4 linked regions of the Homo sapiens genome follow. The protein of the gene in region 1 interacts with the protein of each later gene in a biochemical or structural test. Each region holds a gene or a part of one and is shown in the gene's direction. Other genes may lie near its edges. The genes, in order: HDAC5, DYRK1B, PKN2 and SIK2.

The links.
Region 2: of the proteins of HDAC5 (region 1) and DYRK1B, one has a biochemical effect on the other in vitro, tested with the Homo sapiens proteins (one study listed by BioGRID).
Region 3: of the proteins of HDAC5 (region 1) and PKN2, one has a biochemical effect on the other in vitro, tested with the Homo sapiens proteins (one study listed by BioGRID).
Region 4: of the proteins of HDAC5 (region 1) and SIK2, one has a biochemical effect on the other in vitro, tested with the Homo sapiens proteins (2 studies listed by BioGRID).

What each region holds. Positions count from the first base shown.
Region 1 is NC_000017.11:44,078,620-44,085,643, reverse strand, and holds part of HDAC5 (histone deacetylase 5), read left to right. Parts: intron 1-488; coding exon 489-622; intron 623-968; coding exon 969-1,089; intron 1,090-1,789; coding exon 1,790-1,839; intron 1,840-1,991; coding exon 1,992-2,099; intron 2,100-2,823; coding exon 2,824-2,879; intron 2,880-2,971; coding exon 2,972-3,059; intron 3,060-4,761; coding exon 4,762-4,881; intron 4,882-5,145; coding exon 5,146-5,243; intron 5,244-5,418; coding exon 5,419-5,537; intron 5,538-6,366; coding exon 6,367-6,500; intron 6,501-6,764; coding exon 6,765-6,849; intron 6,850-6,978; coding exon 6,979-7,024. UniProt on the Homo sapiens protein: Responsible for the deacetylation of lysine residues on the N-terminal part of the core histones (H2A, H2B, H3 and H4).
Region 2 is NC_000019.10:39,824,833-39,831,169, reverse strand, and holds the end of DYRK1B (dual specificity tyrosine-phosphorylation-regulated kinase 1B), read left to right. Parts: intron 1-386; coding exon 387-506; intron 507-606; coding exon 607-795; intron 796-1,142; coding exon 1,143-1,290; intron 1,291-1,367; exon of another isoform or gene 1,368-1,454; intron 1,455-2,586; coding exon 2,587-2,873; intron 2,874-3,513; coding exon 3,514-3,660; intron 3,661-3,744; coding exon 3,745-3,885; intron 3,886-4,182; coding exon 4,183-4,498; intron 4,499-4,883; coding exon 4,884-4,990; intron 4,991-5,083; coding exon 5,084-5,455; 3' UTR 5,456-5,820; downstream 5,821-6,337.
Region 3 is NC_000001.11:88,679,668-88,687,272, forward strand, and holds the start of PKN2 (serine/threonine-protein kinase N2), read left to right. Parts: upstream 1-4,605; 5' UTR 4,606-4,913; coding exon 4,914-4,961; intron 4,962-5,496; exon of another isoform or gene 5,497-5,537; intron 5,538-7,605. UniProt on the Homo sapiens protein: PKC-related serine/threonine-protein kinase and Rho/Rac effector protein that participates in specific signal transduction responses in the cell.
Region 4 is NC_000011.10:111,598,215-111,605,459, forward strand, and holds the start of SIK2 (serine/threonine-protein kinase SIK2), read left to right. Parts: upstream 1-4,234; 5' UTR 4,235-4,349; coding exon 4,350-4,484; intron 4,485-7,245. UniProt on the Homo sapiens protein: Serine/threonine-protein kinase that plays a role in many biological processes such as fatty acid oxidation, autophagy, immune response or glucose metabolism.

The sequences.
Region 1 (7,024 bases):
TGTAATCCCAGCTACTCGGGAGGCTGAGGCAGGAGAATTGCTTGAGCCCAGGAGGCAGAGGTTGCAGTGAGCCGAGATCGTGCCACTGGACCTGGCCGACAGAGCGAGACTCTGTCTCAAAAAAAAACAAAAGAAAAGCTAGGTGTGGTAGTGCCTATAGTCCCAGCTACTCAGAACGCTGAGGTGGGAGGATCGCTTGAGCCCAGGGTGGTGGGGGCAGTGGTTGAGGCTGCAGTGAGCCATGATAGCACCACTACACACTCCACTCCAGCCTGGGTGACAGAGTGAGACCCTGTTTCAAAGAAAAAAAAAAAAAAGCTGGAGAGGAGAGGGGGCAGGTTTGTGGCAGGGTGGCTGCAGTGGCCATGGGGAGGTGTTTGGACCTGGGGGTTGGAGACAGCTCCATGAGCCCTGCTGAGGATCATGGTAGCCAGGCTGGGATCCTGGGCCCAGAGCAGTGCTGGCTGACACATAGGTCTGTGGCCCAGGTGTGGTCTACGACACGTTCATGCTAAAGCACCAGTGCATGTGCGGGAACACACACGTGCACCCTGAGCATGCTGGCCGGATCCAGAGCATCTGGTCCCGGCTGCAGGAGACAGGCCTGCTTAGCAAGTGCGAGGTAAGGGAGCCCCTCCTTCTTCTGGCTCTCAACTTAAATCCAGCCTTTGTTTCCCTGTTAGATAAGCCTCTCTTCATGCTTCTTCCTCATCCTCTCTTCAGCCCCAGACTTCGGGGCCAGTTCTCCCACCACCCCGTTCCATCCCTTGCAGCCTGTTTTCCCCCATGGTCCCCAGCTGAGTGGGGGGGATCCGGGAGTAAGGTCATGACAGAGCCAGGATCTACTTTCTGAAAATATTTGGATCTCCTGAGGCCAGGAAGTGGCTCTGTGTGCCCTGGCTATGGGGCAGAGAGGCTCTGAGAGAGCTGTGCCTTTGTGTGACCCCTCTTACTGATCCTCCTGGCAGCGGATCCGAGGTCGCAAAGCCACGCTAGATGAGATCCAGACAGTGCACTCTGAATACCACACCCTGCTCTATGGGACCAGTCCCCTCAACCGGCAGAAGCTAGACAGCAAGAAGTTGCTCGGTGAGCTGGCACATGGGTGGGCGGGCAGGCATGTTCAGTGTCAGGGTGGGATGGGGGCTCTCAGGAAGACTGCCTGACCAGGCTAGGAGGGTTGTCCCCACGGGCATAGGGCATTGCTGCGGCAGAGGTGGCACAATTATCACGTCACACACCTCCAGAGGGCGCCACTAAAATAGAGCATGCTGTGGGGCGCGGTGCAGGAGGATGGAAGTGCTCGGTTGGGGGGACTGCTTTGTTCCCCTCCTCCACGGCTTATCATGCTCCTCTCTCCCTGCCACCTGCCCCCAGAGGTAAGACGTCCCCAAGGACAGAGGACTGACAGCTTCCAACTGGTGTGGGCTGCAGAGGCCTGTCTTGTACTTGGGTCTGAGCCCTCATTTTTGGTGGCTAAGCCTGTAGCCCTGTGGCAGTTGAGGTGCCTTTTTTTTTTTTGAGACAGTCTTGCTCTGTTGGCCAGGCTGGAGTACAGTGGTGCGATCTCAGCTCACTGCGACCTCTGTCTCCCCAGGCTCAAGCAACTCTCTTGCCTGAGCCTATTGAGTAGCTGGGTTTACAGGTGTGTGCCACCACGCCCAGCTAAGTTTTGTATTTTTAGTAGAGATGGGGTTTCATCATGTTGTCCAGGCTGGTCTCGAACTCCTGACCTCAGGTGATCCGCCCGAGGCCACTTCTAGAGTAGCTCTATTCCTCTTCCATGCAGGCCCCATCAGCCAGAAGATGTATGCTGTGCTGCCTTGTGGGGGCATCGGGGTGAGTAGGGCGTACAGCAGTGGGGGTGGGCGGGCGGCTCTCCTAGGTCTGTCTCTTCCCTGCCTACCACAGCCGCTGGCCCACTGTCCAGGTGCCCTCCCCTGTTCTTGCCCTGCAGGGGGCACACTGAAACCTGCTCTCCTGCCCTGCAGGTGGACAGTGACACCGTGTGGAATGAGATGCACTCCTCCAGTGCTGTGCGCATGGCAGTGGGCTGCCTGCTGGAGCTGGCCTTCAAGGTGGCTGCAGGAGAGCTCAAGGTGAGCGTGTGCTTGTGACCTCGGTGCCCCTTGGCATGGCCCTGCTCCTCAGAGGCAGAGGACAGGGGCAGCCTTGGGATCCTTTCAGTGAGGCACTGTCCTTTGCAAGCTCAACTCTCAGGCACCAGGGTGGGAAGGAGTTGCCAGCTGGGAATTCAGGTTATGAGGGACCAACAAAAAGACACTAATGCCCAGTGCTCTCGTGGGTGTCTCGAGGCAGAAATAGTGTCTGCCTGCTCAAGCCTCATGGTTGGCATTCAAAATGGTCCGTTGAGGCTGGGCACAGTGGCTCATACCTGTAATCTCAACACTTTGGGAGGCCGAGGTGGGCAGATAGCTTGAGCCCAGGAGTTCGAGACCAGCCTGGGCAACATAGTAAAACGCTGTCTCTACAAAAAATTAACCAGGTGTGGTGGCGTGTGCTTGTAGTCCTAGCTATTCAGGAGACTGAGGTGGAAGGATTGTCTGAGCCTGGGAGGCCAAGGTTGTAGTGAGCCATGATCGCGCCACTGCACTCCAGCCTGGGTGACAAAGCAAGACTCTGTCTCCAAAAAAACCCATAAAAAAACAAAGAAACCCCAACAAAATTGTGCATTAAACATATGGATCTGCTTTTCTGGTTTGTGTTCACTTCCCTGCCTGGCTTGTGCTTCTGTCCTGTGCTACCCCCTCCACGGCCTTCCTGCCTGGATCTTGCCCCTCACCTCTGCCTGCACCTCTTCAGAATGGATTTGCCATCATCCGGCCCCCAGGACACCACGCCGAGGAATCCACAGCCATGTGAGTGCCCTAGATTCTCTGCCCTCGCCCCTTCCTGTCTCTTGCAAACGTCATGCTGAGGCTGACCTCCTGCCCTTTTCTCCCCTCCTCAGGGGATTCTGCTTCTTCAACTCTGTAGCCATCACCGCAAAACTCCTACAGCAGAAGTTGAACGTGGGCAAGGTCCTCATCGTGGACTGGGTAGGCAGTGAGCTGGTGGGGCTGGGCAGGGGCGGGTAGAGCTAGGACCAGGGTCAGCCTTCAGGAAGTCTCCTCCCCCAGCCCCACCTTCAAGCACCCCAGTCGTCCTCATCCTCGGGTGCTGGGTGTGGGTGCAGAAGGAAGGGCGCTGGGGCTCCTGCCGGATGACTAACGTCACATTCCAACAGGGCTCCCTCCTCAACTATGAAAGACATTTAGCTCCTGTTCCATCTTGGCCCTCACGTTGCAGTTTCAAGCAACGAAGGGGATTTCCTACCTTGAACGGTAGTGACGCTGCCGCCATTGCTAGTAGCCGATATTTCCTCCCACCCCCTACAATTAGGAGCAGACTGTATACCAGGAACACAATGAGTACTTTATGGCCACCTCGAGTAGTAAGAACGAGGATGTCCATTTCTGTGAACAAAGGTGTTGTTGCGTGACTTACCCAAGGCCACTCAGCTGGGGATGTCGGCACTGGGTTTCAGACCAAGGCTTTTGGCCCCAGCACTCTGCTCTTGCTACCATGGGTGCTTCCCAAACCCTGCTCCTAATGGTGGAGGCAGAGGCACACACCACTCTCTGTGAGCTGGGGAAGTAGCCAGGACCAAGCCTCAGGAAGGACAAAATCTCTTGGAAGCCCAATTCTGGCTTAAAAATTCATGTAAATGTTGGATCCTCCTTCAGAATCTTACGTGCTTGTGGTTGGGCACAATGGCTCAAAGCCTGTAATCCCAGCATTTTGGGAGGCCAAGGTGGGTGAATCACTTGGGGTCAGGAGTTCGAGACCAGGATGGCCAACATGGTGAAACCCTGTCTCCACTGAAAATTCAAAAAAATTAGTTAGGTGTGGTGGCGGGAGCCTGTAATCCCACCTATTGGGGAGGCTGAGGCAGGAGAATTCCTTGAACCTGGGAAGTGGAGGTTGCAGTGAGTCAAGATCATGCCACTGCACTCCAGCCTCGATGACAGAGTGAGATTCTGTCTCAAAAAAAAAAAAAAAAGAAAGAAAAGAAAAAGGAAAACAAAAAAGGCCGGGTACAGTGACTCATGCCTGTAATCCCAGCACTTTGAGAGGCCGAGGTGGGTGGATCACCTGAGGTCAGGAGTTTGAGACCAGCCTGGCCAACATGGTGAAACCCCATCTCTACTAAAAATACAAAAAAAATTGGCCGGGCATAGTGGTGGGCGCCTGTAATCCCAGCTACTCGGGAGGCTGAGGCAGGAGAATCGCTTGAACCCGGGAGGTGGAGGTTGCAGTGAGCCCAGATCGTGCCACTGCACTCTAGCCTGGGCAACAAGAGTGAAACTTGGTCTCAAAAAAAAAAAAGAAAGAATCTCATCTGCCTGTTTTAAATTCCCTACTAGCCTTAATGTTTTCCCCAAAACTGTGAGGTGGAATGGGTTCTGTAGGGAGATATGCCACATTTATCCCATGGTTTTGAATATCACCTACACAGTGCCACCCCACAGAGGCTCAGACCTAGTTAGAGAAGTGTGGGGTGTGCAATACCATTGTGAACAGAATATGGATGCCCTGTGGCCAAGGGTGGAGTCCTGGGCTCAAGCGATCCTCCCAGCCCTCAGCCTCCCAAAATGCTAGGATTACAGGCATGAGCTACAGTGCTCAGCTGACAGGTGGAATTTGACCATTGGGTCAGAGCGCGGGCCATTTTCCCGATGCTTCTACCTCCCCTCATAGGACATTCACCATGGCAATGGCACCCAGCAGGCGTTCTACAATGACCCCTCTGTGCTCTACATCTCTCTGCATCGCTATGACAACGGGAACTTCTTTCCAGGCTCTGGGGCTCCTGAAGAGGTACAGCTCCTGGGCGTAAATGCAGACCCTCCTGGCCCCTCTGGGAGGTGGCACAATGGGACCTGGCGGGGAGCCACGGAGGCCCATGGTGGTGTTGGTACCTGGGGAGTCTGGGCTCCTAGTGGGAGGACCACACTGATCTGACTGCCCCTCCAGGCAGAGCAGAGGTCAGTGGAGTGAGATCTGGAGGCAGGGGTGAGGGCAGGGGCAATGTTTGGGACTCCCAGGTGGTGAGAATAGCCCTCTCCCCAACTCTGGTGCCAGGTTGGTGGAGGACCAGGCGTGGGGTACAATGTGAACGTGGCATGGACAGGAGGTGTGGACCCCCCCATTGGAGACGTGGAGTACCTTACAGCCTTCAGGTAGGGACTGAAAAGGGCCATGGTAGTCAGTGGGAGCCCCTCTGGGCCCTGCAGTGGGAGGGGCAGAAGGCACTCAGTTCAGTGTGGGTAGAGGGGGTTGTCTCTGGGAGGATAACAGTGGGGCGAGGCCTGGCCTGGTCATCTGCCGGGCTCAGCTTGAGCCATCCCTTTGCAGGACAGTGGTGATGCCCATTGCCCACGAGTTCTCACCTGATGTGGTCCTAGTCTCCGCCGGGTTTGATGCTGTTGAAGGACATCTGTCTCCTCTGGGTGGCTACTCTGTCACCGCCAGATGTAAGCCTGCTGGGGGATTGAGGGAGGAAGTGAAACAGTGAGGATATCGAGTCCAGTGAGGCATGGGGCAGGGAACAGACTGATATTGCAGCAGACGGGGAAAGCAGGGGGCAGGGCCTAGACTTGGAATCATCTTGGTAACTCCCCCAACTTGTCCTCTGCCAACCCCGGCCTTGAGGGGATAGGAGGTGGCAGTGGGGTAGCAGAGGATAGAGGATGTATCCTGCCGGAGCTGTAGAGATGGGCTTGTTGGTCCCTGGTGTTTCAGTGATGCTCCTTGTCATTGGATTGGAGTCTTCAGCCAGTCTGTTAATGTTTTGACTGTGATAGGGCATTTAGTTCACTGATGCTGTATTTTATTATGGATATATTTGGGTTTATATCTCCCATCACATTTTGTGCTATTTGTCCCACCTCTTGTGTTTCTTTTTCTCTCCTTTTCTTTCTTTTTTTTTTTTTTTTTTTTTGAGGTGGAGTCTCACTCTGTCACCCAGGCTGGAGTGCAATGGCGTGATCTCGGCTCACTGCAACCTCCGCCTCCTGGGTTCATGCCATCCTCCTGCCTCAGCCTCCCAAGTAGCTGGGATTACAGGCGCGTGCCACCATGGCCGGCTAATTATTGTATTTTTAGTAGAGACGGGGTTTCACCATGTTGGTCAGGCTGGTCTCGAACTCCTGACCTTGTGATCTGCCCGCCTTGGCCTCCCAAAGTGCTGGGATTACAGGCGTGAGCCACCGCGCCTGGCCTTTTTTCTCTCCTCTTACTGGCTCTTGAATTGATTGATTACCTTTCGCCATTTCTTCTTCCTCCCTTCACCCATCCTCAAAGGTTTTGGCCACTTGACCAGGCAGCTGATGACCCTGGCAGGGGGCCGGGTGGTGCTGGCCCTGGAGGGAGGCCATGACTTGACCGCCATCTGTGATGCCTCTGAGGCTTGTGTCTCGGCTCTGCTCAGTGTAGAGGTAAGGGGTGGGAAGGAGCTGGGAGGTGGCAGGCCAGAGGTCTGAGGGGCCAGCAAGGGGTCAGCCAGCACTGGGAGCCCCTTAGGAAGCTTTTCCTTGGTCCTAAGGAACAGCTAATGGCCAGGCTTTCTGAGTATGCGTTTGTCCAAAAAGGCCATGTTTGCCCCTGTTGTGAGGGATATCTGGGGCTGAGTGGGGCAGTTAGAGGGGTATGCATGGCAACCCTACTCCCCACCCTAAGCCTTCTCTTCTTTCCCCTGCCAGCTGCAGCCCTTGGATGAGGCAGTCTTGCAGCAAAAGCCCAACATCAACGCAGTGGCCACGCTAGAGAAAGTCATCGAGATCCAGAGTGCGTGAGGACACGTAGAGGGGCTCAGGCTGCCAAGGGGGCACGGAGCTTGTGGGAGCACCAGGACTGGGACTGTTCATGTGGGTGTCCTCTGCCCTCCCTGACCCCTTGCCTGTCTCTCGTCCACAGGCAAACACTGGAGCTGTGTGCAGAAGTTCGCCGCTGGTCTGGGCCG
Region 2 (6,337 bases), on another chromosome or scaffold:
AATTGAGATAGAGGTACTTCAGAGGGTACCCAAAATGGCTGGCTTCAAAGTGAAGAATGGGGAGGAACAGAGCCCAGGTTTTCCATATGATCTCTCCCTCTGAGGTTCAGAAAGGAGTAAAGGTGAGGGGTGAAAGGTCAGAGTTCACTCATTCACACCACAGATCTCTAAGAGCATCCATTGTGTGCCAGGCCCTGCTGTAGGCACTGGAGGTATAGTAAGAACAAGAGAAAGTCTCAGCCCTGGGGGAGTTTCTTTCCTAGACAGGTGGAACAAATACAGACAGCAACCAAATACATGATGTGCCAGCAGCCCTTACAGTTCTTCCTCTTGAGGTCGGAGGTGAAGGCACGTCCTCAGTGCCCACCCCTCACCCTGCCCTGCAGGTATTGCCTGATGTGCGGCTACTGCCTCGGAGGCTGCCCCTGGCCTTCCGGGATGCAACCTCAGCCCCGCTGCGTAAGCTCTCTGTGGACCTCATCAAGACCTACAAGCACATCAATGAGGTGGGCAGGGGCTGGGGGATCCTGGGCTGGGTGCCGAGGGTCTTGTCTGCTGGCATGAGTCACTCACCAGTCCCCATCTCCTGGCTGGCTGGCTGGGCAGGTATACTATGCGAAGAAGAAGCGGCGGGCCCAGCAGGCGCCACCCCAGGATTCGAGCAACAAGAAGGAGAAGAAGGTCCTGAACCATGGTTATGATGACGACAACCATGACTACATCGTGCGCAGTGGCGAGCGCTGGCTGGAGCGCTACGAAATTGACTCGCTCATTGGCAAAGGCTCCTTTGGCCAGGTGTGGGACACCCCCCACCACCCTGATCCAAGGCCCCACTAACATTGATCACACACCCAGTGGTTCAGTGGCTTCAAGTCCCATGCTGGGCCACTCACCCTAGCCCACTTAGTTTCCCTGTGCCTCAGTCGCCTTTTCTGTAAAACAGTTTAAATAACAAGACTCAACATAAGGTCGTTATGTTATTTCACATCCAGTGTTTACACCAGCGCCTGACTAATGGTGCGCACTCAGCTGCGAAGTATGCATAGTGTTCTTGGTGGGTCTCCTTGCCTGGAGGGAGAAGAATGGTGCCTGGCTCTGCCCTGCTCCCACCCCTTTCTTCGTGACATGCCCTGCCCCAACAGGTGGTGAAAGCCTATGATCATCAGACCCAGGAGCTTGTGGCCATCAAGATCATCAAGAACAAAAAGGCTTTCCTGAACCAGGCCCAGATTGAGCTGCGGCTGCTGGAGCTGATGAACCAGCATGACACGGAGATGAAGTACTATATAGGTGAGGCCTGGGACTGGCAGGGCTGTGGGCACCTGGGATAGCGGGAGCTGGAGCCAGTAGGGATGGGTCACACCCCCGCCCTACTCTCAGGAGGAGGCTGATGTCTTCAGAGCAGGGTTTGGTCTGTGCTTCTCTGACATCAGTGATTCTCCTGCTGCTTTTATGATTTTTGTCCTATTTTCTTGGTAATGGTCAGAGGTTACTGAGTGCTCACCAAGGGCCAGGCTCTCTTGGAAGCACTTGGAAGTTAACTCACCACAGCCCATAAGGGGAAGGGCATTATTAACAACATCTTGAAGATAAGAAACCTGGGCTTCCATCCTAGTTTCTTCTTCAATAAAACAAACAAAACGGGCTGGGCACAGTGGCTCACGCCTGTAATCCCAGCACTTTTGGAGGCCGAGGTGGGCGGATCATGATATCAAGAGATCGAGACCATCCTGGCCAACATGGTGAAACCCCGTCTCTACTAAAAATGTGAAAAAATTAGCTTGATGTGGTGGTGCGCGCCTGTAGTCCCAGCTACTCAGGAGGCTGAGGCAGGAGAATCGCTTGAACCTGGGAGGCGGAGGTTACAGTGAGCTGGGACCACGCCACTGCACTCCAGCCTGATGACAGAGCGAGACTCCATCTCAAAAAAAAAAAAACCCAAAACAAACAAAAAACCAAACCTAATAACAACAACAACAGTTACAACAACAACAAAAAAAAACGAAGAAAGGAAAAAAGAAACTCAGGCATTCAAGTGCTGTCACTTGCATGAGGTGGCAGTTTGTACTAATTGAGCTATAATTTGATGAGGTCGTGGACTCCAGAGCTGTTACTCTTAACATCTGTGCCAGTCTTTCTCCTCCCTTAAACTGATTCCTGCTCATGGACATAAACATCACAACATAATCATAAACAGCAAGTGGATTTTAAAATGGTTTCGTTTGAAAGGAAAACGTATATCCTTAAAGTAAACGGAAAACCAGTGTCCTTTGCCACAAAAATGAATACAAGGGAGATGAAAGCAGTGTTATGAAATTAAATGAGGAAGTGTAGAATGTGTTAGAGCTAGTAGTAACTAATGAAACTTTCTCTTTGGTTTAATTGGAGGGTTTGACAGAGACTTGGAAAGAGCATTAACTTCCTGTGTGAATCTAGTTGTTAGATAAAAAGATTTTGACTAGCAGATGGTACCCGTGGGGACAGCACAATGTGGCTAGTAATCAAAGAGCGTTGTATGACCCCAGGCCACCACCTGCCCTCTCTGAGCCGTTTCTTCTCTGGCCCATTTCCTCCCCTCCCCCGCAGTACACCTGAAGCGGCACTTCATGTTCCGGAACCACCTGTGCCTGGTATTTGAGCTGCTGTCCTACAACCTGTACGACCTCCTGCGCAACACCCACTTCCGCGGCGTCTCGCTGAACCTGACCCGGAAGCTGGCGCAGCAGCTCTGCACGGCACTGCTCTTTCTGGCCACGCCTGAGCTCAGCATCATTCACTGCGACCTCAAGCCCGAAAACATCTTGCTGTGCAACCCCAAGCGCAGCGCCATCAAGATTGTGGACTTCGGCAGCTCCTGCCAGCTTGGCCAGAGGGTAGGGGGCGGCCCGGTCCTGGGAGCACGGCTAGTAGTTTGGGTGGGGCAGAGCCAACGGGAGGCTTAGGGGCGGGGCTTGGCTGGGATGGGATTATTAGGAGCCGTGGGAACTGAGGGATAATGCTTGGGGTGGGGGTGTGAATATACTGCCCACTAGGATGGGAAGGGTGAAGCCTGAGGGGCAGGGCCCATTTTGAAGCTGCCAGATGTGAACAGGGTGAAGTTGGGTTGGGTTTGAGCCAGGGGTGCTGCCTCGCTAAGTTTTTGTCTTCTCTGTTCTTAAAGCTGAGGATGGAGGTGGAAGGCTTCAACTTTGCAGCTCTGTATGAGCTGCCACTAAAAGTGACGATGGTATAGGGCTTATGGAATGTCAGCCTCTGCCTGGTGACCCAGAAGGGCCCAGGATCCGGGTTGGGGGTGGAGATCAGGGTCTGTCTAGGCCAGCAGACTCCCCAGATTGATAAACAAGATGGCACCAGTGGCTCCCAGAAAATTGGTGCTGATAATGGCAGGATTTGGAGCCTCAGTCCCCATTTTGTCAGCAAGAAGCCTGTCCTCAGTTGGGTCCTCTTAGCTTTGGGGGTGTCAGTGGGACCAGTAGGGGAGGCTGGGTCCCTTGACGATTACCCTTTTCCCAGATCTACCAGTATATCCAGAGCCGCTTCTACCGCTCACCTGAGGTGCTCCTGGGCACACCCTACGACCTGGCCATTGACATGTGGTCCCTGGGCTGCATCCTTGTGGAGATGCACACCGGAGAGCCCCTCTTCAGTGGCTCCAATGAGGTGTGCCCCCAGGAAGGGGTGTGCTGGAGGTGGAGGGGGTGGAGCCTGGCTGGCCTGATGACCTTGACCCCTGCCTGCTCACAGGTCGACCAGATGAACCGCATTGTGGAGGTGCTGGGCATCCCACCGGCCGCCATGCTGGACCAGGCGCCCAAGGCTCGCAAGTACTTTGAACGGCTGCCTGGGGGTGGCTGGACCCTACGAAGGACGAAAGAACTCAGGAAGGTGCGGCCCCTGCCCCATGCCACTCCTCCCACCCCGTGGCCCCTCACTCACACTTGGGGCTCTCTCCCCCTGCTCCCTCTCCCTTGTGTCTTTCCCTTCCTTCCACTCCCCCTTGTCTGTCCTTTCCTTCCTCCCCTGCCCACCCCATCTCCCATCTCTCCTTCCCACCCCACAACTCTTCTTAGCTTTTCTTTCCACTTTCTCTCTTGTGCCTCTGTTTCCCCGTGTGTGTCTCCCTGCCCCTCCTGCCCACTGACGGCCACTCTCTTGCCCCCCCTCCCACCCCCTCCCTGCCAGGATTACCAGGGCCCCGGGACACGGCGGCTGCAGGAGGTGCTGGGCGTGCAGACGGGCGGGCCCGGGGGCCGGCGGGCGGGGGAGCCGGGCCACAGCCCCGCCGACTACCTCCGCTTCCAGGACCTGGTGCTGCGCATGCTGGAGTATGAGCCCGCCGCCCGCATCAGCCCCCTGGGGGCTCTGCAGCACGGCTTCTTCCGCCGCACGGCCGACGAGGCCACCAACACGGGCCCGGCAGGCAGCAGTGCCTCCACCTCGCCCGCGCCCCTCGACACCTGCCCCTCTTCCAGCACCGCCAGCTCCATCTCCAGTTCTGGTGGGTGCCCAGGTGCCCAAATGGGGTACAACGGGTGGGGGCTGCTCAGGTTTGGCCTGTCCTGGGGGACCTGGTTACTGGGTCTTCACACAAAGCGCCGAAACTGATCCTGAACTGTAAGATGACGTGTGGGATGGGAGAGCTCCAACTGGCCCTGACACAATCACTGAAATTGGGCTCAGAGCCCTGAAACTGGTTCTGACTCTAAAACCCAAAACTGAATTCCAACCCAGAATCTCAGAATTGGGCCCGGTGCTTCAGATGGGCTCTGCTCTTGAAGCCTGAACCTGAGCCTGGGCCGTGACCTTCCCTCAGCCATCCCAAAACCCACTCGCCACCTTCTCTCACCTTATGCCCCTTCACCTCTCCTCCCTGGCACTTCCAGGAGGCTCCAGTGGCTCCTCCAGTGACAACCGGACCTACCGCTACAGCAACCGATATTGTGGGGGCCCTGGGCCCCCTATCACAGACTGTGAGATGAACAGCCCCCAGGTAATGGGGCTTTGGGGGCTTTGGAGGTGGGTGGTGGTGCCTGGGGCTTAGAGACCAGGGTCTCCATCACCCATGGCTCCTTTGCTTTTTTAGGTCCCACCCTCCCAGCCGCTGCGGCCCTGGGCAGGGGGTGATGTGCCCCACAAGACACATCAAGCCCCTGCCTCTGCCTCGTCACTGCCTGGGACCGGGGCCCAGTTACCCCCCCAGCCCCGATACCTTGGTCGTCCCCCATCACCAACCTCACCACCACCCCCGGAGCTGATGGATGTGAGCCTGGTGGGCGGCCCTGCTGACTGCTCCCCACCTCACCCAGCGCCTGCCCCCCAGCACCCGGCTGCCTCAGCCCTCCGGACTCGGATGACTGGAGGTCGTCCACCCCTCCCGCCTCCTGATGACCCTGCCACTCTGGGGCCTCACCTGGGCCTCCGTGGTGTACCCCAGAGCACAGCAGCCAGCTCGTGACCCTGCCCCCTCCCTGGGGCCCCTCCTGAAGCCATACCCTCCCCCATCTGGGGGCCCTGGGCTCCCATCCTCATCTCTCTCCTTGACTGGAATTGCTGCTACCCAGCTGGGGTGGGTGAGGCCTGCACTGATTGGGGCCTGGGGCAGGGGGGTCAAGGAGAGGGTTTTGGCCGCTCCCTCCCCACTAAGGACTGGACCCTTGGGCCCCTCTCCCCCTTTTTTTCTATTTATTGTACCAAAGACAGTGGTGGTCCGGTGGAGGGAAGACCCCCCCTCACCCCAGGACCCTAGGAGGGGGTGGGGGCAGGTAGGGGGAGATGGCCTTGCTCCTCCTCGCTGTACCCCCAGTAAAGAGCTTTCTCACATGCCTGCCTGAGCGTTTGCAGGGCCTCGGCTCCCCTCACCCGACCCTCAGAGGCATGGTGGGGAAGGGGGTTTGCGGAGGGGGTGCTGGAGGAGCTCTGGTGTGGAGACGTCTCGTGGGGAAGCTGTGGCGCGTGTTGCAGGCATGAGTCTGCAGGTCTGGGGCATCAGCATTCTAGATAGATCGTGGACAGGATCCTGGCCTACATTTGCCTTTTCCTGGGTAAATAGACCCTGAAAGGGTAAAGGTTCAGCTCTGGCCTGTCTCTGGGAAACAGGTGCCCTAATAAGCCGGGGCGTCCGCAGACTTAGCACAAGAGTGGCTCCTCATGCCAAGCAGGCGTCCAGTAGCAGCTGAGTACACTTAGGAGGCTTTGTTGGTGCCATCTGGGGAACAGGCAGACAATAGGTACAGACTCTGTCCCCACGTGTACTGTCCAGCTCTTTGGAATCATCGCGAAACAAAGAGTTTTGAGATTCTGAGACAAAAAGATTTTCCCGGGGTTCCAGGTAAGTGGT
Region 3 (7,605 bases), on another chromosome or scaffold:
TTTATCTATGTTATTCTCTCTCCCTGGAAGGCTCTTTACACCTTTTCCCCCTCAGTTAACATTTACACACTTATGAGAACTCAGCTTAAGTGTGAAGTACTTAGGAAAAGATTGTCTGCCCTATGTTTAAAGTACTATGAATTTACCTTATCATTATACCTGTTTTACCAAACTACAAGTTCCATGACAAAAGCGACCAGGTATGCTTTGGTAACCATTATATTCCCAGTGACAGGAAGAATTAAATTCTTTTCTCGTTCCAAAGAGAAGTTTTTCTGCATTGTTGTGCACATGGCAGAAAATGGCTATCCAATCCATAGAACAACACCTTGCCACTCTAGACTGCCAATTGATCAGCATTCCAATGATCTGTTTCCAAAGTCTTAGAGGGAAAATCTGATTGGCTAAACCTGGATATGGTCTATCAGTGATCTAATCATAGTTTACTGGAAGAGCTATGTTAAGCAGAGTCAACATGGCTTCAGAGATATCTCTGTGTATAGGAGGAATTTTCAGTCAAGTGGATGTGGACTGAGCTGACATTCTAAAAAGCAGCTACTGTAGTCACTATAGTTGACTACTCTTCTGTGTTCTTAATCAAGAACCCTGTGCTCAAAATTATCTTCAGAGCGCATACAAGAGAATGATTTCTACAAGGGGGTTTCTTAAGGAAGAAGAGGGTGGTGACCAAGTAATTCTTACTCTGACCTCTGGAGTTTTGCCTTTCCTTAGGCACTCTTACTTTGATTACCACTGCTACTTCATTCTAATCTTTTGGAAGTAGGGGTGGGCTTTTTCTTCTAACATGGAAAACAACAACAACGAAAGGAAAACAAAACAAAACAAAACTCTTGTATTGATTCTCCATCATACTGTAGGGACACGTTTGAATTGAACAGTTTACAAATATTAAGGACAAGCAAAAGGGAAATAAACAACGGAAGGCAATAAAAATGTGACTCACAAAATAAAGATTTCTGGCCCTTTCCCTGGACATATGGTTCCTGTCTCATTTCACTTGAAATTTAAGGAAAAAGAGGGCCCATATTATCTGAATATCTGTTTCAAAAGCACAGAAAATGAAAAAAAAAAAAAGTTGTTAGCTTTTCTAGAATTTTTCCTGTAACATCCCATCTTTAAGAAAAAAAGATAACACTTTCTATTTATTTCTAGATTTTTGGTCATTTCTACTTCTTAAAGACCTTTAAAATATTTATGAAAAATTTAAAAAGGTACCAGCATAACTAGTGATACAATCCAGATATTTTTAAGGACTTTGCCCTCTTAAATGGACACTAAAAAAACTCTTCTTTTTTTTTTATTGTTAATGTAAATTACTTCTGAACTATATTTAAGATTCTCTAAACACATTTGTAAATAGGGGCCCAATACAACCCATCTGAATCAACCTGATATGTTTCCATTAAAACTTTTTCAAGTGTGCTTCAGTCTGATAAGTATGATCCATGTCCTATTACGTTTTTTTCCCCCTGAACAGAGAATGTGACCTGGGTAGTAAATTTTAGCTTAAATGAAACTAATTTGCTGTTTAAATCATCACATATTTTAGATTATCAAGTAGTTTTAATATTGTTGGCCTCCCTTTTGTACTACTTTCCCTAGCACAGCTAATCTCAGAAATAATTCCTTAACTTTAAAAACTTTGTATATTTGTTGCTTAAATTTACATGTGAAATGTAAAATTAATATTCCTTATCAACAGTGGTGTGCACCTATAGTCCCAGCTGTTTTGAAGGATGAGTCAGGAGGATCCCTTGTGCCCAGGAATTTGAGGTTGCAGTGAGCTATGATCATGCCACTGCAGTCAAGCCTGGGCAAAAGAGCGAGACTGTCTCAAAAAAATTTTTTTTAATTATTAACACTTTTAACATTAGAAGTGTGTAACATTTAAAGTCTTTTTCTACGGTAAAAATTTAATGCTTTCAGTTTAATATCAATTTAAAGTTATTATAGTGGCATGGTGAAGGTTAAAACAAGCATGGATGGCAATTAGGAGACTTAGGTAATAGTCCCCATCTCTGCCACTAAGTAATACTGCTGTCTTGCTTCTAATTAGCTAAGGAAACTATTAATTTTTTTTCCTACCTACAATAGGAGTTAAGCTAGATATTTCAAGTCACTTCTAGTTCTAAAATTACATGATGCTGAAATGTGAACATTTATATCTAAATTAATTTTTACAAAGACTGCTCATTGACTGTATTTCTAAGCCCTTGCACAGTTAACTCTTAGTTCCACCATTATTAATCACCTTCTATGTGCATGTCAGCCATCTCAAATCCATTCTGCAGTAAGCCTTGACAAAAATAAATTTGTACGCCAGGCACGGTGGCTCACACCTGTAATCCCAGCACTCTGGGAGGCCGAGGCAGGAGGGTCACGAGGTCAAAAGATCGATACCAACCTGGCCAACATGGTGAAACCCGTCTCTACTAAAAATACAAAAGTTAGCCAGGAGTGTTGGCATGCGCCTGTGGTCCCAGCTACTCAGGAGGCTGGGGCAGGAGAATCACTTGAACCTGGGAGGCGGAGGTTGCAGTGAGCTGAGATGGCACCACTGCACTCCAGCCTGGTGACACAGCGAGACTCTGTCTCAAAAATAAATAAATAAATAAATCTGTGTGCATTCAATGCCCCTGAATTGTACACTTATGGTTATAATAAATTTGATTATGCATTTTACCATAATAAAACATTATACACACACACACACAAATGCATGCAGTGCTCCCCTAACACTGTATCTATTACTTAAAATGGCATTATTGTTGTTCGGACATAAGTTGGCTTCCCCAAAGAATTCTCCAGTCACCCCAAGGATAAGTACCTTTTTTTTTTTTTTTTTGAGGCAGTGTCTCACTCTTACTGCAACCTCTACCTCCTGGGTTCAAGCAATTCCCCTGCCTCAGCCTCCCGAGTAGCTGGGATTACAGGCGCACACCACCACGCCCAGCTAGTTTTTGTATTCTTAGTAGAGACAGTTTCACCAAGTTGGCCAGGCTGGTCTCGAACTCCCGACCTCAGATGATCGGCCAGCCTTGGCCTTCCAAAGTGCTGGGATTAAAGGCGTGAACCACTGCGCCTGGCCGGATAAGAACTCCTAATCCTTTCTGTAACTCCAAAGCCTAGGAAACCATCTGGCTTTTAGTTACCAGTAAAGGTAATCATATCCCGGCCTTTCCAAGTGTTCTTTCATGTATTTAATTATCATCTTCAACCAAGGCAATATACTAGACACATAAATAGTTGTAAGACTTGTGAAGTACACACCAGAAAAATTCTTTATCACACATATGATAAGTTAGAGTTCAGAAACTGTGGCCACAGAACTCCAGATCTTCAATACATGTTTGCTGAATTGATGTATGAGACTTGAGAAGGCAAAAGGATAGACGTTAAGTCCTGGCATCAGGCCAACAGAGTTACATGGAGCGTGTGAGAAGTACATAATGTTACACTTCCTAAGAAATATGTCAACGAATGCCCTTTCTAAGTAGCAACGTACCTAAATAACCCTTACCACTCTCTCCAGGTAGTTTTAACAAAGGTATTGTACCGCAGCTTCAAAAAATCAAAAGTTACGCGTTTACCTATCCATTCACTGCTCAGACAAAACAAAAACAAAAGCTACCTGTAGGAGACTTCGAAATTCCTTAATACCATAGTGTCATTAAAAACAAACACCTAGATTTACTTTACTTAGCTATATTTTACTAAGTAGTCAGGTTAGCTTTAATGCTTACCACGCCAAGGAAAGGTGGCTTTTTTCCTTTCCCGAGGGTAATCCCGTCCCACCTCCCCCTCCCTTAAATAAAGTTAAAACAACCCAAAAAAACCCAGCTAATTCTCAGCTCTGTACAGTTCTCCAGTACAAGCAACAGTAGTTCAACCTCAAGAAAAAGACATCTTAAAGGCCGTACATTAAAAGTTGCCAGGGATCCAGCCGCTTACATTTCATGAAAAGTACAGACCATACCCGTTTAGCTAGCTGTGCACCTTAACTGGTCGAGAAGGCGCGCTGGGGGCTGGGTTTGAGGGTGAGCAAAAGGCAAGATTATTAGTTTGGGTTGACGTGGGGGTCAAGGGGAGAGCAGAGGAATAATCTGTAAGATCTGAGTCCCGAAGCTCTTTGGGTTATGGAGGTTAGAAAAGGGCCTGTTAAAGTTAGGCCCAAGTTTCGGCAAGGTGGAACTGGGAAAAAAAAAAAAGAAAGAAAAAAAAAACGAAACCCGAAAAAACAACAGCGAGCAGGCTCCCGAGTTCTAGCGTTCACAGTGAAGCCGTTAAACGCAGCAGGAAAGTAGGCGTGTGTTTTCTTCCTCTTCCCGCCTCCCCAGAGACTCGAGCCCAGTCCTTTCCCCTCATTTTCACCCCAGCCGAGTCCAATGGCTGCCCTCGCCGCGGAGTCGGGTCGGAAGACGCCCCGCCCCCTCGCCGCGTTCGCCCTAGGGAACCCCTCCGCCCCACCTTCCCTGCCCGATGAGGGGCAGTGGCTGCCGCCGTCACGTGTGCTGGCAGCCGCCAAGTGAGGCCGCTTTTGCGACGCGGTGACAGCCAAATGGTGCGACAGGAGGAGCTGCAGCCGCGGCCGCAGCGCCCGCACGGAGAGGCTTGAGGCGGCTCCTGGCGTCGCCCAGAGGGAGCGACTAGACGAACAGTCCGGTGAGGGCGGCGAGAGGAAGCCCGCTACGAGTGCCCTAGCTCCCCGCCGCTCTCGATGAACCGGACGGAATAAGCCGCGCCTCCAGCAGGGGCTGCGCCTCCATGAATCCCTAGTTGTTTTTTTTTTTTTCTTTCTCTCCCCTCTCCTCACCCCCACCCCGAGCCCCGTCCCGCCTTCTCCCTTCGCCAGAGGCGGCCGCGTCCAGGTGCGGAGTCCATACCGGAGCGCAATGGCGTCCAACCCCGAACGGGGGGAGATTCTGCTCACGGAACTGCAGGTAAGGGCCGCGGCCCTGGTGAGAGGCGCTGGCGGAGGAGACAGGGAGAGAGCCCCGCGCGGCGTCGGGGACCGAGGAAAGCCCTGCGGCCGCCGCGCCCCTAGCCCGCTAAGTGCGGAAACTCCGGGATGTCACTCGGGAAATGCTTCCCTCGGGGAACCGCTTCCCTGGGGAGCCGGACCCTCTCCCCCGCCAAAGCCCTGGCCTGCCACCGCTTTGGTTTGATTCTGCCTACCAGAGGGGACCCCATCTCTGCAGCCCTGCTGCAGCGGGAGCCTGCTCTCGCCTGGTCCCCGGAGAGGCCGGCCCGTCGCCCCCTCCCTCGGTGTCAGAGCTACCCGCGAACGCCCCTGTTGCCCCCTCCCTTCGCGCGGCCGGGCCCCGCCCCGCCTTTCCTCCGTACACCGCTCCTTAAACTCCTTTGAATGACTCCCAAGCTGTTTTCTTGTCCCTCCCCCTCCCCTCAGACTCCGCACAAAGAGCGCCCCCATAACTTCCAGCCCCTAGACAAGTTTTTTTAAAAAACGAGTCTCACCAAATGTTTGCTTCACTTCAGCAGCCCTCTTCAGGTGACAGAGTTTCTTTCCTCTATTTTGAGGGTTATCTTTTTCTTTTCTTTTCCTTTCTTTTTTTTTTTTTAACCGAGTGATAAATACAGGGTGCCTTTCTCTGCTACCCCTGCCCAGATCCGGGAGCTCAGATGCTGATGCTTTTCAGACTTTCATTTTCCCTCTCATTTGAGCACCAGAGAAAGAGCTAATAAGTTGTTTACTAATGAGAAAGCAGTCGACTAAGGGAAAACATTGGGCACCACATGTCTGCAAAAGATGAGAGCAAAGTAGATCGCTTAGTTAAGTCATGTCGAGTAGCAATGTTATTTCCCATTTCCAGATAAATATTTGATAATGTAGGCACGATTTTCTTTAGATCTCTATGGTGTACATGGGGACTTAAGCTACCCTGTCGGGTTTTTCATTACTTGGGAGTGTTCCAGAGATGTTTGTTTTTTGACTTAAAAGTTATTTTGCTTTATTTTAATATAGTTATCTTTTAGCTACTCAAAGATTGTAGATGGGAATTAGGAGAAAAAAATAGCATGCCTGCATTTCTTTTTGTGTGTTGGACAGTTAATTTTTTTTAAAAAAAAGACTAAATCAAGAAATTCTGAAGAGTTGATGTCAAAATTAAGTATTGCAACTGCATCTAAATTTCTTGTTTAAATATACTTTTTAAGAAATCTCTTTATAAGTTTGGTTTCTTGTGCAGTCAGACGTAAGCTTGAAAACTTTGGTATAATGGTTGATATTTCCTCCACAAAAATAGAGACTTTAACAATGTATATCAATGCAGTGTTGCACATTTAGAATCCTTTGGTAATGCAAAGCTGAATTTCATATAATTGAAAATGTTGCTATGTAGTATTTTAATTACAGTTAGCCTTTTATAAGCAGATCTTACAGCATACCACATTTGCTAAATGAATGGAATTTACTATTTTATTAATAGTAAATAATTTACATGAGCTTTTAAAATGAAGATGATGTGAGGCAAGTCAGAAATACTTTACATTGCCTGGTCTTGAACCATGAAAAACATACTTTGGTTTTGATTGAGAAAGATGATAGGGTCACTTTTCTTTTGAATTGAGCAGTGTTAGAGTTACAATATATTTGGCATTGGTACTTGTATGTTATAGAAAGTTGGCATAAAAGACACCTACTTTGGCACTGGAACTGAAAATATATTTTCATGTGTATTAATAACATTTAGGATCTTTTAATTAATAAGATCAATTTTGATAATAACAAGGAAGCAAGCAAAGAAGGAAGAAATTTTAAATATGATGACCTAGAAATACGACCAAAATAGAGGAATACCTAAAGTTAAGCTTCTAGATAAACTGAAATATAACCCCTTCCAGAAAAAGAATAGTTTTTATTAAGTGTTACCTTATAGGTTGTCATATATCCAAGTCATTTTCTTGGTTTATTTGACTCCCAGTTTTGATAAAAGTTATTGCATTTAAACTTTATCGTGTTTATTAAAATGTTTGCGACTATTACTTATATCAACACTTAAAGATAAATAGTCATAAAGTTTGCTTCTCCAAATATTTCCATCTATTCAGACTTTTTATTTCATTGGGTCCTGAAACTTAGTGTACAGCAACCAAGTATTTATTAAACTTTTGTTTCAAGATTCACTTTTTTAAAAAGCTTCTAAATTGTTTGAATTTAGACTGAAATACTGTTTAATATGAAGTTCTTAATTCTTCTCTGCCATACAGATTTTAAGTATTTAAGAAGTTTTGTAGCCAGTTTTAAGATGTATTTAATGGTTAAAACTGTTACTTTGCTATGTATCCTGTCTCAGGAATACTTGTTTACTCTGAAAGTTACATATTACAACCTGGCTTTAATAAAATTGATATTTATTTAGAAATATATCCAGCTTTTCATTATTTTTTCAAATTGTAGAATTTGAAATACTCCACTGCTTGAGCTGGAATTGGCTTTTGGTCATGGAAAGGCAAAGTAAGAAAATCTGAAACTACAGTATTCTGTCTTGTTAATTACTGTAATAGCATGGAGTAATGTTTTTAAGTATTGTTAGTAATTCAGGAGGCTTATTCAACAAGGAAGCA
Region 4 (7,245 bases), on another chromosome or scaffold:
ACTCAATGCTAAATATCATAGACCCACAGCATCAGCTGGGAATGCTGCATCTGAAAGCTCAAGCAAAAAGGAATTTGGTGACTAGAGTGCTTTCCCTCACTGATACTAAAACCAGAGACGGAAAAGAAAGATGGGGATTGTATGAAGCTCTCTTTCTTCTCCTTTTCCCTCTTATCTTTATTCTTTTTTCCTGAGGATGGTGTGTGTGTGTGTGTGTGTGTGTGTAGGGAAAGAGAAAGAAGAGGAGAAAGAGGGAGAGAGGAAGAGAAAAGGAAAGCAGGAGTTGGATAATATTAATAATTGCTAAAATGTATACAGCTATCATTTAATTGGAAACAAAAATACATAAGAGACAGGCAGGGTTGAAATAGGACAGGGATGAGTAGGTCTTTTGGATTAAGGAAAGAGTTGAATCACAGAATCCAAGATTGCAGTATTCTAAATTAGTCCACATATATGTATTTCTTCAGGGTTTCATTTACAGCCTACCAGTAACGCTGAGTAGCACGCCCACTGCATTTCCACATGAGTAAGGCTGATTTTTGGCACAGCCCCTTCTGTCTCTTCCCTCTTTCTGGCCTCCTGTTCTCTAACTTGTAGACACCCAGCATGCTCACACTAACTCCAGCTTTCCAAAACCTTTTGGTACTCTCTGTCCTCCCTTTTTCTTCTTTCCAGCCCCAAATCAATTCTTATTCCCAGACTGTGCAAGTAGGTGTTTGGCCTGGTTATCTAATTTAAATACTCAAATGAATCCATTTCCATTCAACAGGTATACTTTAAAGGATGAGGTTGTTCACTGTAGTGGGTCTCCCTGCGTATTTTCTGGTTCTTGGTTAAGTGGCTTTTCATCAGATTCCCAAAGGAACCCACCCCCAGAACAATTAAAATACAATCATCTGGCTGGGCGCGGTGGCTCACGCCTGTAATCTCACCACTTTGGGAGGCCAAGGCGGGCAGATCACAAGGTCAGGAGATCGAAACCATCTTGGCCAACATGGTGAAACCCCGTCTGTAGTAAAATACAAAAAATTAGCCAGGCATGGTGCTACGTGCCTGTAATCCCAGCTACTTGGGAGGCTGAGGCAGGGGAATCGCTTGAACCCAGGAGGCAGAGGTTGCAGTGAGCTGAGATCATGCCACTGCACTCCAGCCTGGCGACAGAGCAAGACTCCACCTCAAAAAAAAAAAAAAATACAATCATCTAAGTGGCAAAATGCACATGGGAACTATTTTTGAACTGGTATACATATGTAGGTTCCTAGCCTAATTAGAATACCTCTCACTAGTTAGAGGACCACTCATACACCACTCCCATCAATTCAGAAATCTGATCAGCCTTACAGCTTTCCCCCATTTCTCCCCTCACTTTTGCAAACAACATACCTCATGGTAGAATAAGGTATTGCTTGGGGAGAGTGAAAAGCAGAAGCACAGGGAGCAGTGGAGGGCCCAAAAGCCATCTTGCACTAAAAAATATATATATATAAATTTTAAAATAAAATAATACACAATATATTAATTTTCATTAAAAAATTAAAACTACAGAAAAGTTGCAAGAACAGTACAACGATCTACCACATACCCTTTTACCTACCTTTTACCTATTTTATCAATTTAAAACTTTGCCACATTTGCCTTATCTATCTGTGCTAAACTACTTGACAGTAAGTTGCATATATCAAAAGGTTTTTTTTTGTTGTTTTTTGTTAGAGTCTCACTCTGTCACCCAGGCTAGAGTGCAGTGGTATGATCTTGGCTCACTGCAACCTCCGCCTCCCAGGTTCAAGCGATTCTCCCACCTCAGCCTCCAGAGTAGCTAGGATTACAGGCGCACCACCACCCAGGCTGGTCTTGAACTCCTGACCTCAAGTGATATGCCCACCTCGGCCTGCCAAAGTGTTGGGATTACAGGTGTGAGCCACCACGCCCGGCCAAAAATTTTATACCTAATTGTTTAGTGTGTATCTCCTAATAACGGATACTCTCTCTTATAATCACAGTACAATTATAAAATTCAAGAAGTTTAACACTGAAACAGTATCTTATCTAATATGTAATCCATATTCAAATTTCAGTAGTTGTTCTGAAATATTCCTTTATAGCATGTTTTTTCAAGACCACATGTTGCCTTTAGTGCCATGCCTTTTTAAATCCCTTAAATCTAGAATGGTTCCTCAGCCTTTCTTTGACTTTCATGACACTGATGTTTTTTAAGGATACAGGTCAGTTGTTGAGTAGAATGTTTCTTAGTTTGCATCTTTCTGATGTTTCTAGATCATAATATGCATTTTTGACAGGAATACTACTTAAGAGATATTGTAACCTCAGTGCCTCACATCTGGAGGCACATCATGTCATTTTATCACATAATTGGTGACATTAACTTTGATCATTTGGTTAGGGTAGTGTCGGTCAGATTTCTCCACTGTAGAGGTACCCTTGTTAACCCTTTATCATGAATAAGAAATCCAAAGACTGTGCAAATATCTTGTTCCCCAGCCAAATTTTATTCAATGATTTTAACATCTATTGATAATTGTCTGAATCCATTATTACTGTAATGGCTGCCAAATGATTTGCTAATTGTCATTTCTTCTAACATATATTAGTTGGCATTCCACCGTCATTTCACTTCTCCCCTCTTTATTTTTCTGTTTAAAAGTAAGTATGCTCTACGATTCTTTTAAAAAATTCAATGTGTTAGAATCAATTTCTATATTTATTTATTTATTTATTTATTTACTGAGACAGAGTCTCGCTCTGTCGCCCAGGCTGGAGTGCAGTGGCACGATCTCGGCTCACTGCAACCTCTGCTTCCCTGGTTCAAGCAATTCTCCCTGCCTCAGCCTCCCGAGTAGCTGGGATTATAGGCGCCCACTACCACGCCCGGCTAATTTTTGCATTTTTAGTAGAGATGGGGTTTCACACAGGCTAGTCTTGAACTCCTGACCTCAGGTGATCCACCCGCCTCAGCCTCCCAAAGTGCTGGGATTACAGGCGTAAGCCACTAAGCCCGGCCCATTATTTATTCCTGATACTCAAACTGTCTCAGATTTGGTAAGGGGGGAGCACCTTCGAGCCATCTGCTTTCTTTTGACATATCTTCCTTGACATAGCCAAGAAATCTCCTTGCTTTAAGGAGCAGGATCTTTCAAGGGCATTTTATACTTTCCCTGTCTCTGCCCTCGAATGAGCCATCTCGCCACGGAGTCTGGCTCCTTTAGGTGGAGAATGGTATTTAGAAACCAAGATATAAAGGCATATGATACATCTCAAAATAGTGAGGTGTCACTGTCCCTGTTTCCTTGAGTCACATTTGGAAGCGTGGTGTGATTTATAATCCTACCTCGACTATTGCCTGTGTGACCTAGGCAATTCCCTTTATTCCTTGAGGTCTTCTTCGTCCTTTGGGGAAAAAAATTGGATTAGAGAAATATTTCTAAACTTTTTCAGAGTCACCAACGCGTTTGGGAATCTGACAGAAGCTACGGGTCCATCTCCCCAGAGACATGCTCACATAAGCAAAAACTGGCCTGTGTTTTAGGGGGTTCCAAACTCTGAAGCTCACATGAGGCTCCAAATCTCTGGATTAAGTGATCTCCAAGATCTCTTCAGCGCTGACATTGACATTCTGTGAGTCTATAAGCGACTGCACTGCTGTCAGAATGACTCCTCGGAGACATCAAAACGTGGAGGGTTTTATTATATATAGCAACGAGAAGAGAAAAGGACACAAAGAAAGGAGCCTGTGAGCAACGCATTGCTCAGCCACAGTTCTTTGCCGGTGCCAAATTTAGGACGCGCTGTACTTGTAGGTGAGAGGTTTTGGCGGGAAGGACCCCGGGTGGGCGGAGAACGCCGGGGCGGGGAAGGAGATCGCAGGCCGCATCCAGGTCTCTGCACCCCTCCGCACGGTCCGCCAGGGCTCGCTCTTGCCCTTCGCCTGGAAGGCCGAGGAACGGAGCGGGCCGAGCAGCGACCCCGCCCCTGGCAGCGGTGAGGCGGAGGGGCGAGGGGAGGGCGTCTGAGCCCGGAAGGAGCGCGCCGGCCAGGCTCGCGCCCCTCCCCGTGCGCCGTCCCCCACTCTCCAGCAGCCGACGTCGGCGGTGCTTCGGTCGCCATGGTGACCAATCCAGGCTCGGGCCCGCCCCCGCCCCCCTGCCCCGGCCCCCTGACGTCGGCGCACGTCAGCGGCGGCGCGCGCCTGGCTGGGCCCTGGGGAGCGGGAGGGAAGGAGCGAAGGAGCGAAGGAGCAAGCGGAGCGGCCGTCGCCCAAGCCAAGCCGCGCTGCCAACCCTCCCGCCCGCCCGCGCTCCTGTCCGCCGTGTCTAGCAGCGGGGCCCAGCATGGTCATGGCGGATGGCCCGAGGCACTTGCAGCGCGGGCCGGTCCGGGTGGGGTTCTACGACATCGAGGGCACGCTGGGCAAGGGCAACTTCGCTGTGGTGAAGCTGGGGCGGCACCGGATCACCAAGACGGAGGTGCGGCCCGGGGCTCGGCGGGAGCGTCCGAGGCGAGGGTTCGGGAGAGGAGCTGCTTACCGAGAGGGGCGGCCGCAGTGGTGGGACCGGGGAGACCCGAGAGGCCGCCTCACTGGCGGAGGCGAGCGGGCCTGGGACTGTGAGGACCCAGGAGGTGCAGGGGGTCGGTGAGCAGCGAAGGGATCGGGCCCGGGCACCCGGACCCGAGTGTCGTCCGACTGGAAACGCAACCAGCCGGGGCTTTGCTTTCCCCTACGCCACCCCCGGTGGCCACCCGGAATTTCGCCCAGAGCCCCCCACCCGGGCCGTGACCTGGTCTGTGGCCTCCGCTCCGGAGCCCAAGTTCCGCGTCTTCCCTGCTTTCGGCTGGGGGTGGGGTGGGAGGGGAAGTCTCGGTGTTCCCAGGCTGCGCCGTGAGAGACGTCGCCGGCCCGAGGAGGGGACCGCCTGCGCTTGGGCTCCGCGGATGGGGGATCGTGCGGCCCCCGTGACCCCGGCGCCCCTCCCCTGCCCGACGAGGAAGGGCCCCATGGCTGGGAATACCCCCACGGCCACTGTCCATCTCCTCTCCTTCCTTTTGGCCCAGGGTGTCTCTGATTTGGTGTCTGGCTAGCTTGATCTCTTGCCTGGGGCATTTCCATTTAATGCCCCAGACAATAGAACTGGTTAAAATGGTCATCTCTGCATTTGCACGGTGGGTGGATTGGTCTTCTACTTGTCTAGGGTTGTCACTGTACCAGGTGTGCATTCTGGCTGTAATACGCATTCTTTAAACCATATCAGATTCTGCCTCTACTCATAAAGCCCTCAACTGCTTCCTGACGGTGAATCCTGCACCCTCTTCATTGCACATTCTAATGCACCGCACATACTCTCTCACAAGTCTCTGTTCTTACCTAACCCGCCCCCCTTCCTTCCACTGCCTCAAGCTGCTCTCCTCAGGGTCTCTATTTTAAGACGTGCAAATTAAATACCTTAGAAGAACGGTAGAAACAAAACCATTCTTTAGAATAAAACCTAGTGGTTTTGACGTACTCTACTCTGCCTTATTGTAGTTCCTCCTGGAGTTTCATCCTTTTCCTGTTTGTTTGCCCTCCAGTTTTGGTCCTATTCTGCTTTTTCCCTTGTTAGTACGAATGTACTGGAGTTTGAGTGTAGAATAAAGTAGGACTTCTTTTCAGAATGACTTATGTAAGGCGAAGGGCACTTGCAAACGTGAGTGATTTTTGGAGTTGCAGTTGTACTTAGAAGTTTTGCTTAATCCCGTTTCCAAAAGGAAGGGGTATATGTCATTCTGTCTTCTTTACTTTTTGCCTTCCCCTGCTGGTCCTGAACCAGTCCAAATCTGACTTATCTTTTAGAATCAGGACCAAGGTCAGATATTTTCTTCTCACAGATTTACCAGTTAGCAATTTAGATTGTTTGTAATGATAATGATAACTTGACTATAGTGATATTGTTAAATCTTAATCTGATCCCAGCATTTTTTAAAATGAAGAAATTGGTTCCATTCCTCTGAAGAGCCATGGCCTATGCCATGCCATTTCCCTTTAAGTTACATAAAAGAAGGCATTTTAAATGCATGTTTTATGAGTCCTTGCTTAATGACTTTCTAAAAACAAACAAATTGTGAGTTATAGAGAGGTTCTACAAAACTTTTGAACTGTAGTATATCGTGTGGTTGAATTCCAAATCCATCAGTTCTTAATATTTTTTTCTCATCAGCTCTTACTGGGATTAATAGCAAGATTTAATTAAGTCATCTATTATTTATCAGGTCAAATTTAGTTAATACAGTAAGAGCTGCTTAAGTGGAGTGATTGACACTTTGAGGTTGACAATTCAAATGGTGTCCGTTTTAAACTAATATATCTTAAAGAGCTAGGGGGCACTATGGAGTAATACCGTGGTTTGGCTATCAGAGTGAGATCAATGCATTCATTTGTAATTGGAACAAGCACCGGTCAGATCGTGAAAGAGGACTTAGATCCTAAATCGTGTGTGTAGTATATATGTGTAAAATGATTTACGTTAAAAGCTAAATGTTTAGTCCGCAGAACCCATTTCCCTGTGCTTTTCTAAAGAAGCTGTTATTAACATATAAAAAGAAATAGTGTGAATTTGAGATGGGTGAGGGTATCTGTGGTAATTTGGTGGGTGTGATTGGAGATATTAAGGTAGAGAGGGATAAGTGAAATGTCAAAGCAATCTTTGAACAGAAAAGTTCTCTGGATCTCTAGGTTGTAAAGTTGCTCTGAATTTTTTTTTTTTTTTTTTGAGACGGAGCCTCGCTCTTGTTGCCCAGGCTGGCTGGAGTGCAGTGGTGCGATCTCGGCTCACTGCAACCTCTGCCTCCTGGGTTCGAGCGATTCTCCTGCCTCACCCTCCCAAGTAGCTGGGATTACAGGCGCTCACCACCATGCCCGGCTAATTTGTGTGTTTTTAGTAGAGACGGGGTTTCACAGTGTTGGCCAGGCTGGTTTCGAACTCCTGACCTCAAGTGATCCACACGCCTTGGCCCCACAAAGTGCTGGGATTACAGGCGTGAGCCACCGCGCCTGGCCCAATTGTTTCTTAAAGTATTCCATGGGAGTAACAATTCCATTGTTAATGATGTTTTTTACAGCAGTTATTTATCCTTATTCGTTCATTCACTGGATAAATGTTTGTGTGTTTTTGATAAATACAACTACCTTAAAAACTATAAGATGTTTAATTAAAACTTTTGTTTTAAATTCAGTTTTCATGGCAGAACATACTA